2 separate regions of the Homo sapiens genome follow, and region 1 is linked to region 2. Evidence: fine-mapped expression QTL. A gene starts in region 2. The other region holds a variant in brackets. All regions are shown on one strand. Distances are between the middles of the regions. Region 1 overlaps SEC31A (SEC31 homolog A, COPII component). Region 2 holds the start of SEC31A (SEC31 homolog A, COPII component).

The links. PIP is the estimated chance that this variant, and not a neighbour inherited with it, causes the effect.
Region 1: its variant is the best candidate, but not a certain one, in a credible set for the expression of SEC31A in whole blood (INTERVAL, PIP 0.81).

What each region holds. Positions count from the first base shown.
Region 1 is chr4:82,852,837-82,861,173 of GRCh38, forward strand. SEC31A (SEC31 homolog A, COPII component) reads right to left here. Exons shown (of 27, transcript NM_001077207.4): 15 at 4,853-4,928; 16 at 4,116-4,294; 17 at 2,067-2,193; 18 at 734-879. Among named protein-coding and RNA genes, the nearest start is that of SEC31A, 34 kb to the right of the region's middle. The variant T/A (reference allele first, on the strand shown) is at 4,710.
Region 2 is chr4:82,887,673-82,896,009 of GRCh38, forward strand. SEC31A (SEC31 homolog A, COPII component) reads right to left here and starts at 3,481. Exons shown (of 27, transcript NM_001077207.4): 1 at 3,416-3,481. THAP9-AS1 (THAP9 antisense RNA 1) reads right to left here. Exons shown (of 4, transcript NR_034077.1): 3 at 8,020-8,102; 4 at 5,780-7,175. It overlaps SNORD143 (small nucleolar RNA, C/D box 143), which reads right to left and starts at 8,256; the gene lies at 8,181-8,256.

The sequences.
Region 1 (8,337 bases), 35 kb before region 2:
AGACAATTTTTCCACAGGCCAGCAGGGGGGATGGTTTCAGGATAAAACTGTTCCACCTGGCCTGTTCCATAAGGTATTAGATTCTGATAAGGAGGATACAACCTAGATCCGTTGCATGCACAGCCCACATAAGGGTTCGTGCTCCCACGAGAATCTAATGCCACCACTGATGTGAAAGGAAGCAGAGCTCAGGCAATAATGCTCGTTCACCCACTGCTCACCTCTTGCTGTGAGTCCAGGTTCCTAAGAGGCCACAGAAGGGTACTGGTTTATGGCCTGGGGGTTGGGGACCTCTGCTACATGGGATTCCATTTACCTCTCACTTTCATTTTCCTTTAACCATAAAGATTCTCTACTGGCATTGGGGATGCCTCCTATTCCTTTACCCACATTGCTTCTTTCTTTGCTCATGGCAGGCAGAGCCACTGGAAGCAGACAGAGGAGCACACAGAAAAAGAGGTAAACCCTAGAGCTGTTTTCAATCCTCCTGCCACCTATTTCCCCCAATAAACTCACAAATCACAACCATGATTTTACAACAGCTGCAACCCCATTTTCCTATCCTATCATCTCAAACTTTGCTTCTTCAAAGATAGCAATAAATGCATATAATTATCCAGCAAAAGAAGTTCTTGAATGTATAGAAAAAATGAACTTATAGATTATAACTTGATGATAAGTAGGGTGAAAGACAACACTAAAAATTAAGTGCCTTTTGTTTCAAAGATACTACCTGAAGTGACAAAGGGTGGCTTCCATCTTGAGCTTTAGTCCAACATGCAACTAATTTCTCTACATTCCCTGCACAAATATAGCAGAGACATGCTTGAGTCTGCAGGAGGCTATCTCCTTCATTTTCAAGCCTGGTTCCCAAAAGATCTGTAAGTAAGAGGAAAATAAAATAAGATTATACCCAAGGCAATCTGTATATGAGGCTGTGAGCAGCTAAATAATATTTTCAGAGGCATGGATTAAGCTTCATAACCAATGAATAGCATAGAGAAACAAAATCACTCTAAATGCTCAGTAAATATGCATTTGTTAAATGAATGGGAATGAAAAATTGTATACAATAAATGATTTTACAAAACTATTATCTAACTGTACAACTAATTTTTATTAATTAAATTAGAAAAACAATAAATGGGAACAACATTTGAACAAAAAAACCCTAAAGGCACATTTGGAATAGATTTATCAATGTTAGCTAAGTCTAGTATAAATTACTTATAAAAATGCAGTTATGGCTGGGCATGGTGGCTCACGTCTGTAATCCCAGCAGTTTGGGAGGCTGAGACGGGCAGATCAGCAGAGGTCAGGAGTTCAAGACCAGCCTGGCCAACATGGTGAAACCCTGTCTCTACGAAAAATGCAAAACTAGCCAGGCATGGTGGTGCATGCCTATAATCCCAGCTACTTGGGAGGTTGAGGCAGGAGAATCACTTGAACGCAGGGGGTGGAGGTTGCAGTGAGCCAAGATTGTGCCATCGCACTCCAGCCTGGGCAATAAGAGCAAAACTCCGTCTCCAAAAAAAAAAAAAAAAGCAGTTAGTATTTTGTAATTTTTATATTCTTATAATTATTTCAAGGCAGCAAATGGCTATTTGTTTTTATACTAGTAGCCTTAAGCTTTTCTTGCAAATATTTATTCCTTGGCCACCAGTTTAGTCATGGCCTATAATGGTAATTTCTATTCTAATGTTATTATTAATTTTATCATAGCTAATATTTATTAAGTGAGAGTTACTTATGGTCTATTTCACAGATGAATAAACTGAGGCTTAGAAAGTAGTTCTTCCTAGATCATACAGCTACTAAGTAGCAGAGGCAAGATTCCAACTCTTGTCTGTCTGAAACCAAAATCACTAGTAGATTTAAAAAAAAAAAAAAAAGAGTAGGTATGAAGACGTATTTAATAAATCTGAGAAAGGCACTGAAATGAGAATTTTTCTTTTTTGTGATTTGTAGATTTTAAAAAGTTTCTAATAAAATTTGTCATTTAAGTTTATTTACAATATACCCTGCCACGTATGTAAATGCAGTTAAATATAAAGCACATCTCTTACCACAAAGGGCTGAAAATTCATCCGGCTTTGCATAAGTCAATACTGCAGCTAAAGCCTCTCTCCAATTTTTAAGATCACAAGACTCAACAATCTCTTTCCAGTTCTTCATCACCACTGCAGTGATGAGCTTGAGAAACGAAAACAAAGGAAGAATTAAAAGTCTTTAACATAGCAATAAAAATTAATTCTGACTAATTAATTGTGTCAAGTATTTCATGCCAAATGCAGCAGCAAAATGAAGTATAATTTTGAATCAAATGACATAATAATGGTATTATTGTTCCTCAAGAAACAACAGCAACAACAAAAACAACTGACAACATATTTCATAAAGTGCTGAGAAGGAAAAATATAAGGTGCTATCAGAACCTTTAATAGAAAGGTGTGACCTGGTCAGATGGATCAGGAAAAACTGCCCAAGCATGTAGACTTTTGACACGTGATCTGAAGGACAAGCAGGAATTAACTTCATCAAGAAGGAAAAAGCCTTCCAGGCCAAGGGAACGACAGATGCAAAGTTCCAGTGAGAAAGGAACATGCAATGAGTGAGGGAGGAACTACAAGGCAGCCACTGTGGCTAAAAGATAACCGAGGAGAGACTGAGATGAGATGAGGCTAATGGGACTCAATACTGGTACAACTTTTATGAAAACTAATTTCAATAAAAATTACTTTTTTTATGATGTAGAAATAACACCAAGTAACCACAAAAAAGAATGAGATCGTGTCCTTTGCAGGGACATGGATGGAGCTGGAAGCCATTATCCTTAGCAAAATAACACAGGAACAGAAAACCAAATACCGCATGTTCTCACTTACAAATAGGAGCTAAATGATGAGAACATGTGAACACATGGAGGGGAACAACACACACTGGGGCCTATTGGAGGGTGGGAGGAGAGAGAGAATCAGAAAAAATGATTAATGGGTCCAAGGCTTAATACCTGAGTGATGAAATAATCTGTACAACAAACCCCTATGACACGAGTTTACTCTTAAGTTTGTTAGATATAACAAACCTGCACATGTACCTCTGAACTTAAAATAAAAGTTAAATTCCTCTTCTATGACTACAGTTCAATTTAAATAATCAGAAATTTGTACAAGTCTTTAGGCACAACAAAGGTGTTTATCACTATATAAACAAGCGTGTTTATTTCTATTTGGAAAATACTGGAAACTACCTAAACATAACAAAATAAGGGAAACATTACATCTTCTTACCATGAAATATTATAGAGCAATTAAAATTTTGGGTTTTTTTTTGAGACAGAGTCTTGCACTGTTGCCCGGGCTGGAGTGCAATGGCGTGATCTCGGCTCACCGCATCCTCTGCCTCCAAGGTTCAAGCGATTCTCCTGCTTCAGCCTCCCTAGTAGCTGGGATTACAGGTGCCCACCACCACATCCGGTTAATTTTTTGTATTTTTAGTAGAGATGGGGTTTCACCATGTTGCCAGGCTGGTCTTGAACTCCTGACCTCGTGACCCCCCCACCTCTGCCTCCCAAAGTGCTGAGATCACAGGCGTGAGCCACTGCGCCCAGCCGCAATTAAAAAATTTAATAAGGCCAGGCACGGTGGCTTATGCCTGTAATCCTGGCACTTTGGGAGACCGAGGTGGGCGGATGACCTGAGGTCAGGAGTTCGAGACCAGCCTGACCAACATGGTGAAACCCCATCTCTACTAAAAATACAAAAATTATCTAAGCATGGTGGCGGACGCCTGTAATCCCAGCTACTTGGGAGGCTGAGGTAGGAGAATCGCTTGAACCCAGAAGGTGGAGGTTGCAGTGAGTCAAGATCACGCCACCGGACTCTAGCTGGGGTGACAGAGCAAGACCCCGTCTTTAAAATTATTAATATATACAAAAACAACAAAACTAGAATAATCATGCCAAAATGCCAACAACTATTTCCAGGTCAAGGAATTATGAATGAGCTTTTAAAATTCTTTACTGGTTTCTGCATTTCAGTTATCTATAATAACAGTGTATTGTTTTTATAATTAGAAAGATAAATACGTTATTGCTTATTTTTAAAATAACATACCCTGGTAATTTTGCTTTGGGATTTTGCGAAGTATTTTTTCTGGGTTCGAGCCAAGAGTTCTTGTCCACCTGCTATGGCCAATATAATGGCATCGGCCATGCGGTTATCATGTAAACAAAGGTCAACAGCACTCTCAAAATTGCCCGTCAGCAAAGCCTGAGTAATTAAACCATCAATGTCTGCAACAAGAAAATAATACATCCAAGTTAAATAGAGTTTTTGTTACCAAAACCAACAACAAAGTACTACATCTATCAATTTTTATATATATACATGAATGGAGACCACAACACTAATTTCTGATTACTAGTGGATTAATTTCTAACACAAGCTATTGGTATTTATGGAAGAGGTCTACAGAAATATGCTGAGATAAATACAAAATAATACATTTTCCAGATGCTTTAACTGGATTATCAAAGATCACCTAGGTGTCTGAACACACCAGCCTTCCCAAGGCACTGATCACATATACTGTACTAAAGGAAAAGTGAGTTCTTTCTCACACTCTACCACCTGTGATAAAACTTTTTTTTTTGAGACAGCGTTTCACTATGTTGTCCAGGATAGCCTCAAACTCCTGGGCCCAAGTGA[T/A]CCTCCTGCCTCAACTTCCCAAGTAGCTGGGACTATAAGCATGCACCACAGCACCTGACTTGAAGCATTTTAACTTAAATGCAGGAACTATTTGTTTTCCAATGGTTAAAAAAAATTAGAAATCAAAACCAACAAGTACTTACCCCCACTGACAGAGATATTAAATGTTCCTCCAGATGAGGGTAGAAATTCAGATTCTTCTTTTTCCTCTTTAATGTGCTAAAGAGATGAAAAAAGCAACAATTTAGCCAGAATAAAACTGTGGAATGATTTACTGACAAAAAAAATTTACACATGATTCTTCATCTACAGAGTAGATGACATACCAAGTTATTCCAGAAAAGTTCTCAGATCCAAATTTACAACTAAGATCTATGCCTTCCCTAAATATTACCTCCCATTATATAATCATAAATAAAATCCAAGGTCATGAAGAATACTGGTTAAACAGGCTGGGCACAGTGGCTCACGTCTGTAATCTCAGCACTTTAGGAGGCCAAGGCAGGCAGATCACTCGAGGTCAGAAGCTCGGGACCAGCCATGCCCAACATGGTGAAACCCCATATCTACTAAAAATACAAAACTAGCCGGGCATGGTGGTGCGTGCCTGTAATCCCAGCACTTTGGGAGGCTGAGGTGGGCGGATCACAAGGTCAGGAGATCAAGACCATTCTGGCCAACATGGTGAAACCCCGTCTCTACTAAAATACAAAAAATTGGCCGGGTGCTGTGACTCATGCCTGTAATCACAGCACTTTGGGAGGCCGAGGCGGGCAGATCACGAGGTCGGGAGATCGAGACCATCCTGGCCAACATGGTGAAACCCCGTCTCTACTAAAAATACAAAAATTAGCTGGCGGCAGTGGTGTGCACCTGTAGCCCCACCTACTCGGGAGGCTGAGGCAGGAGAATCACTTGAACCCAGGAGGCGGAGGTTGCAGTGAGTTGAGATTGCGCCACTGCACTCCAGCCTGGCGACAGAGCGAGACTCTGTCTCAAAAAAAAAAAAAAAAAAAAAAAAAAAAGAACACTATTAAATAAACTAACATGTACATATTCATTACTGGTATCTCAGTAATGAGGCTGAAGAATCTTTGTTTTCTTAGGTAACTATGAGTGGCTCAAAATATGGAAAATATATTATTTATTTATTTATTTATTTAATTTTATTTTTTGAGACAGAGTCTCACTCTGTCACCCAGGCTGGAGTGCAGTGGCGCACTCTCGGCTCACTGCAAACTCTGCCTCCTGGGTTCACGCCATTTTCCTGCCTCAGCCTCCCGAGTAGCTGGGACTACAGGTGCCCACCACCATGCCTGGCTAATTTTTGTATTTTTAGTAGAGACGGGGTTTCACTGTGTTAGCCAGGATGGTCTCGATCTCCTGACCTCATGATCCGCCCTCCTTGGCCTCCCAAAGTGCTGGGATTACAGGCGTGAGCCACCACGCCAGGCCGGAAAATATATTTTTAAATTATACTATTTTTAAATTTTAAAACAAACCTACTTTTACACATCTAAGAATTCCTGTCCACTGGATTTGATTATAAAGTGTTTTTGTTTTTAACTGAATCATAAAAAAAAATGAAAAAAAAATCACATGGTACCCATAACATAAAAGTAATATAAGTACATTATTTATTAATACACTTAAATTCAAGTATACATTTTGTGTTTACTCAAATTAGTCATACCTGGAACAGTGGGTTAGTCTGGTAAAAATATACACAGTTCTGTTATAAATTTCTGAGACTACCTGCAAGACTGATTAAAAATAAACTCAATGCTTTCTTTAGAAGAAATATAATGGGGGCATTTTGCTGGCAAATAATTTTAAATGCTTTCTCTCCCATGCATAAAAATTCAAAATAAGACAAAAATATATCAGAGATTAGAGATAAATTTTTAAAGAAAAACAAAGCTTTCTTACATGAGATGAAATATCTGTCTTCTGTGCTATGTTATCTACACATCTGAATGTAAATATCTAGTATTCAAGTTCAGTGGCATTTTAGAACTGGGTAATTTTAATGCAGAGTACAGCACTGCACCATCTGCAAATACACTTAATTATTAATGTTGACTATTACAGGAGAATATCTATAACCCTAATTCCCTTTCCCCAACTAAAGAGAAGCATTTGGAATTTAAAAACTAAAAGAAATTAAGAATTTAAGTTATTCACATTAAGGAATAAATCAGAGACACTGATCTAATTACATTCATTAACAAACTTGCATAAAAATATTTTTTTTTTTTTTTTTTGAGACAGGGTCTCGCTCTGTCGCCCAGGCTGGAGTGCAGTGGCGCATTCTCAGCTCACTGCAAGCTCCACCTCCTGGGTTCATGCCATTCTCCTGCCTCAGCCTCCCAAGTAGCTGGGACTACAGGCGCCCCACCACAACGCCTGGCTAAATTTTTGTATTTTCAGTAGAGGTGGTGTTTCACCGTGTTAGCCAGGATGGTCTTAATCTCCTGACCTCGTGATCTGCCCGCCTCGGCCTCCCAAAGTGCTGGGATTACAGGCATGAGCCACTGCGCCTGGCCACTTTTCTTTTTTTTAACTCATTATTTCTCAAATTTGCTTTCTAGAAACAATTTATCCTTATTTATGGACTTCTGAACGAGATATAAGGTCAAAAAATGCACAATTTATTAGGTATTGAGTGCCTTCAATGTGTAAGCTACTATGAAACAAATAGCTCATTGAGACAAAGGGGAAGATTTTACCTCCTTAAACACATTTTTTCAAAGAACCAAAAGTACACATTGATGACTACTATTTCATTAAATGCATATATTTCTTACCTATTATTCATGAGTGCATTCCCAAATGATCTTCTATTTGATAATACATAGTCTAGTTGTACATAAATGAAAGTACATTTCTCTATGTATCTTACAATTCTGTCTAAATATTCTCAAAATTAGTTCTTTTCTTTTTTAAATCAGACAGGGTCTTGCTCTGTCACCCAGGCTGGAATGCAATGGTGTGATCATAGCTCACTCCAACCACGAACTCTTGGGCTTAAGTGATCCTACCTCAGCCTCCCAAATAGCTAGGACTACAGGCATGTGCCACCACGCCTGGCTAATTTTTTATTTTTTTTTTTAGAGATAGGGTCTCACTATGTTGTCCAGGCTAGTCTTGAACTCATAGCCTCAAGTGATCCTCCCACCTTGGCCTCCCAAAGTGCTGGGATTACAGGCATAAGCAAACATCATGCCTGGCCTAGTTCAAAGTTTTAGTAAAGATTTTATCCATATCCTTTATTCCCTTGTTAATTAAACTCTAGGAGATCCACTTCTAAGGAGAATGATTTTTGCAATCATCTTGTAATAGACTAAATTTACTTATTTTTATAACTTAGTAAAAAATTATACATAACATTCCATAGTCAAGATATCACAAAGAACAATGAAAAAGCCAAAGATGAGATGAGAAGAACTTGTTGATTAATTTTCCAAGATGAAATAAAATTAGAAAGCAAGAAAAGTAAATTACAGATTTGTTCATTAGTGGTTAAAAAAAAAAAAACACCCAGAAAATTAAAAGGAAAAATTAATGATGTAACTCTGTGTTCAAGGACTCTTCTCAATTATTTACAAAAATTATCAACTAAGGACAC
Region 2 (8,337 bases):
AACAGTGCCTGGCATATATAAACAAATGCTCATAAATGACAGTTATTACAAACATCACTACTTAAAACGTCTACCACCACGAAACTTCAAAAATACATCTATTAGGCCGGGCGCGGTGGCTCACGCCTGTAATCCCAGCACTTTGGGAGGTCGAGGCGGGCGGATCACGAGGTCAGGAGATCGAGACCACGGTGAAACCCCGTCTCTACTAAAAATACAAAAAATTAGCCGGGCGCAGTGGCGGGCGCCTGTAGTCCCAGCTACTCGGGAGGCTGAGGCAGGAGAATGGCGTGAACCCGGGAGGCAGAGCTTGCAGTAAGCTGAGATCATGCGACTGCACTCCAGCCTGGGTGACAGAGCAAGACTCTGTCTCAAAACAAACAAACAAACAAACAAACAACAACAAAAAAAACATCTATTAGCCAGGCGCAGTGGCTCATGCCTGTAATCCCAGCACTTTGGGAGGCCGAGGTGGGCAGATCACTTGAGGCCGGAAGTTCGGGACCAGCCTGGCCAACATGGCGAAACCCCGTCTCCACTAAAAAATACAAAAACTAGCCGGGCGTGGTGGTGTGTACCTGTAATCCCAGCTACTCAGGAGGCCGAGGCAGAAGAATCGCTTGAACCCGGGAGGCAGAGGTTGCAGTAAGCCTGGGAGACAGAGCGAGACTCCGTCTCAAAAAAAAAAAAAAAAAAAAAAACACACAAAAAACATATATATATATACACACAGACACGGCCAGGCGCAGTGGCTCACACCTGTAATCCCAGCACTTTGGAAGGCCGAGGCGGGCGGATCACGAGGTCAAGACATCCAGATCATCCTGGCCAACCTGGTGAAACCCTGTCTCTACTAAAAATACAAAAATTAGCTGCGCGTGATGGCGCGGCCAGTAGTCCCCGCTACTCGGGAGACTGAGGGAGGAGAATCGCTTGAACCCAGGTGACGGAGTTTGCAGTGAGCCGAGATCGCGCCAATGTACTCCAGCCTGGGTGACAGAGCGAGGCTCTGCCTCAGAAAAAAATAAAAAAAAAAAAAAATTTCTTGAGGAAAATTTATATTCTAGACTAGAACTCTTTATTTTTCATGCAACTTTCTCTCAATAATTGCATTCAATTAGGTGGAAACTTTTTTATTTCTGCTCATTTTCAAAGTGTAAATTTTGTGAAGCAATACTAAAACCCACCAGCACTGTTCTTTGAAAAATACCAACCTTGCAATGCTATATACAGAGCTGATCCATAACTCAGAAAGCAAGTAAAAAGTTAAAGAGGTAATAGAATTGGAACTTGGATTCCCAAACCAGGTATACAATCCCTAGTTGGCACTGCTTTCAGTAAAAATCCATTTTCTGCAGGCAAAATATCTCAATATGGATAGAAACAATTGTTTAGAGGATTTATTTAGTATTTTCAATGTTCTAGGTTCATTTCACTCAACCCAAACCAAATCAAAGGAGAAAGCAACTGTGCACTGGTTACTGAACTAATTGGTGTCATACTAATCTTCAGTATAATAAAACTTTTTGAGCTGAAATTAACCTAATGACATTCCTAACAACAATGTAATCAATGTAAATCAATCTAGTAATATCCCCTTACAGGAGTTTTTAACTTGTAAACTTCATAATATTATGTATATAGAAAATCCTACATGTCACTTGAAAGCAGGAGCTTGAGTCCAGCCTGGGGAACGCAGTGAGACCCCCATCTCTATAAAAAATAAGATTAGTTGGGCGTGCGCCACGTGCATATTCCTAGCTACTTCTGAGGCTGAGGCGGGAGGATCTCTTGAGCCCAAAAGTTCAAGGTTATAGTGAGCTATGACTGCACCACTGCACTCCAATCTGGGCAACAAAGAGGGACCCTGTCTCAAAAAAAAAAAAAAAGTAAAAGAAAAAAAAAGAAAATCCTACATGTGTGTATATGTGCATTCTTCCAATGCTTTCATTAGATTCCCGTAAGACAGTGAAATCCCCCCAAAATTTTGAATCATTGCTCTTCACAGTTTACAAATTTATTTCTATTCCCATGTTATTGGTTTCAATAAAGAATTTGCTTATATAAAATTAAGCAATATCATTATAAATCCACCTCAAATTTCAAATTTCACAAATAACCGCGGACGTATTTAAGATAAAATCACTACAAAACTACAAAAACACTACGAGTTATCCAAAAGTTCTTAAGAGTCTACAAACCTCTCCCTGAGCTGTTAATTAAGGGATAGTGAGAAACAAGGAGCACAGAAGAACCACTAAAAAAGGAGAGTAGGCTGGGCGTGGTGGCTTATGCCTGTAACCCCAGCACTTCGGGAGGCCAACTCGGGCGGATCACTTGAGGTCAGGAGTGCCAGACCAGCCTGACCAACAGCGTGAAACCCCGTCTCTACTAAAAATACAAAAATTAGACAGGTGTGGTGGTGGGCGCCTGTAATCCCAGCTACTCAGGAGGCTGAGACGGAGGTTGCAGTGAGCTGAGATCGCGCCACTGCACTCCAGCCTGGGTGACAGAGCGAGACTCCGTCTCAAAAAAAAAAAAAAAAAAAAAAAAGGAGAGTAAGCTTTTGCCAACTCTTGAATAAACGGAGGTACAGAAAACGCAGGACGCTGTAACAAGAACACACCCTTATCGATTAAATACAGTTATAACTGCCCACAAAGACAACCAAATTTCAGTTTTCTATAGTTAGAAAAAATAAGTTAGGAGAAAGGATTTGTCACAGACTATCAGATCACTGCAACTTCAAATAGCCCTACGTAAAATTAATTCCTTAAGCGCAAGAAAAAATTTATAATGCCCACAAGTCCAGGCAATATTTTGGTTTATTTTACAACAGCCCCGTAATTTAACAACTTATTAGCAAAAACATGTAACACTTAATGAGACTGCCCTCAAAGTACAGGCTGCGCCTGGCTACCACCGTCCTTAAAATAATCCTAGTTAAATGACAGTAGACGTCAGTTCAAACCTATGAACCTTTAAATCTGGCAATAGTTCAAGTACAAAAAAAAATCCTAACCAAAGCCAAAGTAATCCTGAGATTTTTTTTCCTCTCCTCACCCTCGGGGACCGCACCTCTTTGTGCACAAGGGTCTGAAAGTCTCCTAATCTCAAACTCCAGTTACCAGCCCGGCTACTACTCCCCGGCAAGACACTGTCGCCAGCCTCGGGTGGCTTTTGCTCAGCAGTGGAGACGTCGGCGAATGCGGACGGGCGCGATCACTGGAGTCCAGATGCCAGGCGTTGTTCCGCCGGGCCCGAAACCAAGACTAGGGGCGCGCCGTCACCAGAGACCGGGCCTCAGGCTGGTGCGGGGCAGCGGAGACCCAGGCTGCGGTCCCAGTTTTGGCCTGGGCTCTACCTCAAAGCTTAAGGACCGGCGAAGAGGACAAAAAGCAACGGGCGGACGCACCTGGCGAGGACCTTCGGCAGCCGGATCCTGCGTTAGTGCAGCGCTCGTCGGACTCTCCCAGCATTCGCCGCCGCCCCTCCTCCCCGGCCAGGGCCACCTCCACGTTCCGTTCCAACGTGGCAGCCGCAGCCGCAGCCACGCCCTGCGCCCAACACTTCCGGGAGCGACATCTTTCCCCGCCCACCCGACGCACAGCCCGCCACGGCACTTCCGGGACCGGCGGTAGCCTGGGAGGCGGGGTACGGCTCCGCTGGTTGGTGGCGCTCTGCGGTCATCGCGCCCCGGCGATCGTAGAAACCCTTTTCTGAGGGGCGGCGCGCAGAATGTGGATGGGGTAGCCAGGACTAGTGGGTAAAGGACTAGTGCAGAGGGTGTCCCCGTCTGGCCGAATAACCGCCGTGGCCCGCAGGAACGCCACGTAGCACTAGTCCTGTGAGGCGTCGGCAGCCCCTGGCGACACTGCCCGCGCCAAACCAGGTGGAAAATCGGGCTGCAAGGGCTTTATTGTAATTTGTGACTGAGTTCTTAAAATTACCCACTTGATTGCACATTCTGGCGTTTTGAGAACTTATACAAAGTGAAACAATCTGGGCATTCCCAAAGGCTATTGTGGACAAAGAGGTATAGATGGGGTGTTATATTAATTCCAATTAGTACCGTTTCATACTTGTTACTATCCCATGGTATTGAGACCCGGTAGCACTCACCTTCTGCCACTGTTTCTCCACAACCTCAAATCTAATTAGATGCGTTGCCTAAGTGTACTTTTAGTTTAGGGAGGAATTATTTTACAGCAAGGTGAAGCCAAAGGAAAATCACTTGCTAAATTACCAGAAATTGGATTCAACCCAGATCTCCTAACTTCTAGACAAGTTCTTTTCTCATTACATCTAGCATTCAAAGCCAACTCTTGCACTTTGGGTAGCTAAAGCAGAAGGATCCTGCCCCTTGAACAGCAGCAGTGTTAACATTCCCACAGTCAGCTACATCTTCTGTAACATTCCATCTGAAGCTTGCAGCTTCATAAGACAGCTTAACATCAATTCACGCCAACTTCTGAAATAATGAACCCAACTTTTACTGGTAGTAATATATTCTCTTTCAGTCTTCTAATTACCATTTTCTTTCAACGCAGTAACTAAGGTTATCACTTTGGCCTGAATGCTAGTCAAACTGATTGGGATTTGTTTTTGATTAGTCTTCAATTCAAACAAGTAAATGCTCCATTTCAACCGCAAGCAGCTTTCTGTTCCTAGTGCAATTAAAACTGAAAGACGTTGAAGCAACTTTACCTTTTTACATTTATCAGACTTTTTCAATAGGCTTGTATTACAGCTTCATGCAGGTCTGGGTCTCAACCTATCTTTGCTTTGCTGTCACCACTTTCAAATCTAATCACATCCAATTTCACTTCCAGCATTATCACTTTTCTTTGCTGCTCTGTCCTTTGTTGACCAATTACCTCTTTTAATTATCCATTTTTATAAATGGTCACAAGTTTAATCTCTGGGGTCAAGGAGGCAACAGTACTATGCACTTTGTGCTCTGCTATCTGTGCATGAACTAAACAGATGATCAGTAACAAATCAACAAACTTTGAAAGCAAAGTAATGTAACTGGCGACTGATCATGATGCACATCTTTTTTTTGGGGGGGGGGGCACAATGATTTGTGGACTAAAGAGCTAGCAGCAAAATTTATGCAAGTTTTCTCAGTACTGTGGTAATGGAATTATTAACCACATTGTTGGACTGGTTTTATTTAACTGTGGTCACTGGTATTTATGCATATTGGAACTGTGCAAAGACTGCCTGTATCTAAAAAAAGAAAAACTCTTTAGTTCACAAAACTAAATCCAATTTAGTTAACTACTATCCAAGCCTAATCCTGAATCAAATAAAAACTGAATTGCTCACTAGAAGAATGTTTGGAGAGAATTTAATGACAAATTTTTCAAATTAGGATTTGCATAGCACAAAGATATTCTAGGTTTTTTTAGAGACAGGTTTTTGCTGTGTTGCCCAGGCTGGAGTGTGGTGGCAATGATCACAGCGCGCTGCAGCTTCAACATCCAGGGCGCAAGTGATCCTCCCACCTCAGCCTCCCAAGTAGCTAGGACTACAGGCACACAACACCATGCCTGGTTAATTATTTTATTTTCTGTAGACACAGGGACTCATTTTGTTGCCCATACTGGTCTGGAACTCCTGGCCTCCAGGGATCCTTCTGCTTTAGCCACCCAAAGTGCAAGGATTATAGGCATGAGCCTCCATGCCCATTTGACATTCTTTTGGGAATTCAGATCCCTTCCCCTCATTTCAACAGTCTTGATGTCTGCAAAGAGTGAAGTTGTAGACAAAACAATCATCACAAGATACATGAATGTTTATGTAACTTTTTCCATAGCAGCCAGTACTATGCTTACACCTCAGTAAAACAGTAGCATCCATTTCATTGTTTTAGTTTGTTTCTGAATGCATTTATTTCACAAATTTGTTTAAGGGCTATAAACAAAATTTGTATCAACTTGTTTGTATATATTTACAAAACAGAAAATTAAGTCAGCATTAAGTCAACATGAGTAGTCACAGAATTTTTCCCCTTTATAAATGGTACATATTCAAGGAGACTTCAAAAAGTTTGTGGAAAAATGGTTAAAAGATAAAAAATATAAACTATATTTTTGAACATTAGCTCTATAGCATTCAAGACACTTTTGTAAGTGATGATACCAGCTATTTAGTCCATCCCTAAAGAACTGAGAGTTCTGGGAATTTATCTACATCAATGCAGTTTCTTTATACATTAACTTGAGAAAAATGTACTGCCCTGAAAAATTTTTTTAAGATTAGGAAACAAAAAGTCAGAAGGTGCCAAACCAGGACTGTAGGGTGGATGCCTAGTGATTTCCCATCAAAACTCTTGCAAAATGGCCTTGTTTGATGAGAGGGATGAGCAGGAACATTGTTGTGGTGAAGAACTCTCTGGTCTTTCTCGGGGATTTTTCTGCTGAAGCTTTGGCTAAGTTTCTCAAAACACTCCCATGATAAGCACGTTACCATTCTTTGGCCCTACAGAAAGTCAACAAGCAAAATGCCTTGAGCATTCAAAAGCTGTTGCCATGACCTTTGCTCTCAACCAGTCCTCTTGTGCTTTAACTGAACTACTTATCTTGGTAACCACTGCTTTGTGTTTTGTCTTCAGGATTGCGCTGGTAAAGCCATGTTTCATCTCCTGTTACAATTTTTCAATGAAAGGCTTCAAGATCCTGATCCCACTTATTTAAAATTTCCATTGAAAGCTCTATTCTTGTCTGTAGCTGATCTGGGTGCAATGGTTTTGGTACCTATCAGGTATAAAGTTTGCTGAACTTTTCCAGTCAAAATTGTGTAAGGTGAACCAACTGAGATGTCTATGGTGTTGGCTGTTGTTTCTGCTGTTAATTGTTGGTTTTCTTCAATTACGCCATGAACTAACTTTTTTCTCACAAACTGATGTGGATGATCTGCCACTGTGGGCTTCTTCTTCAACATTACCTTATGCCTTCTTAAAACGAGTTATCCATTTGTAAACTGATTTCTTTGGAGCACTGTCCCTATCAACTTTTCATAAAGCATCAATTAGTTCACCATTCTTCCACCCAAGTGTCAACATATATTTGATGTTTGTTCTTGCTTCAATTTTAGCAGAATTCGTGTTGTTCTGATAGAGCCTCTTTTCAAACTGATGTCTTATTCTTCTTAGTGCTTCAAACTAGATCCTGTTCAGACATGTTATAACAAGTTAGTAGGAGTTTATTTTGGTCCAAAAATTTTGAAATCCATGCATAGTTTTTTCATGATATGCATTTTCCATGCACTTTTTCAAGACCCCTCATATTTTCTTAAATTTGAGAAACAACTACAATAACAAGCCTAATTCATGACAGAACTAGTATTAGATTTAAGATTCCCAGTTTCCTATCACCTTCTTTTCTACTGTTCCTGAACAGATCCTTAAGTTATAGGCTAGTCATCCTTGGCATATCTAACAGTCATTTGTAAACCCTGGATCTTTAAGAATATCAGGTGCTGAAAAGATTATATCATTATTTCTAAGAAAAGATAACCAACAGCCAGGTGTGGTGGCTTATGACTATAATCCCAGCACTTTGGGAGGCTGAGGTTGGTGGCTGGAAGTTTGAGACCAGTCTGGCCAACATGGCAAAACATGGTCTCTACTTAATAAAAAAAATTAGCTGGGTGTGGTGGCATGCGCCTCTAATCCCAGCCACTTGGGAAGCTGGGCCACAATAACTATTTGAACCCAGGAGGCAGAGATTGCAGTGAGCAGAGATTGCGCCGCTGCACTCCAGCCTGGGCAACAGAGTGAGACTGTCAAAGTTAAAAGCTCCACCCCCTCCAATGCCTTTCCTGAATTGAATCTATTAATTAAAAAAATACTATTTTGAAATAATACTTATCTTTAAAAGCTGGAAGAGTAAGGAAAAGAAATTTTTAATTCAGAGTACAGTATCCACATTAGGCTGAAATAAATGTCAATTTTCTGCTCATACCTGACCTTTTCTGTGTTCTTTTATCAAAATAAATGTGTAAGTCCCATACCTTATTATATAAATCTTCAACTTCTTGATCAAATAAATATGACAAATGATGTTCTCTAAGAAAAACACCCTTCAATTTTATTCCTAAAACGAAAAACATTCAAAGGAACTCATTGTGCAGAAACACAATATATACAAGTCTCATCATTTTCTTTTTCTATTATGTCCTCATCCACATACATTAATCACAACAAATCATGATGTGAACAGCAGTGGAAAAAATTTAATCATTGGACATTTATTTCTTGAACTTCAGCTCTAGTTGTAAGATTCTCATTGCTTAGCTCTTTAAAACAAATGCATATATTTATCTAATGTA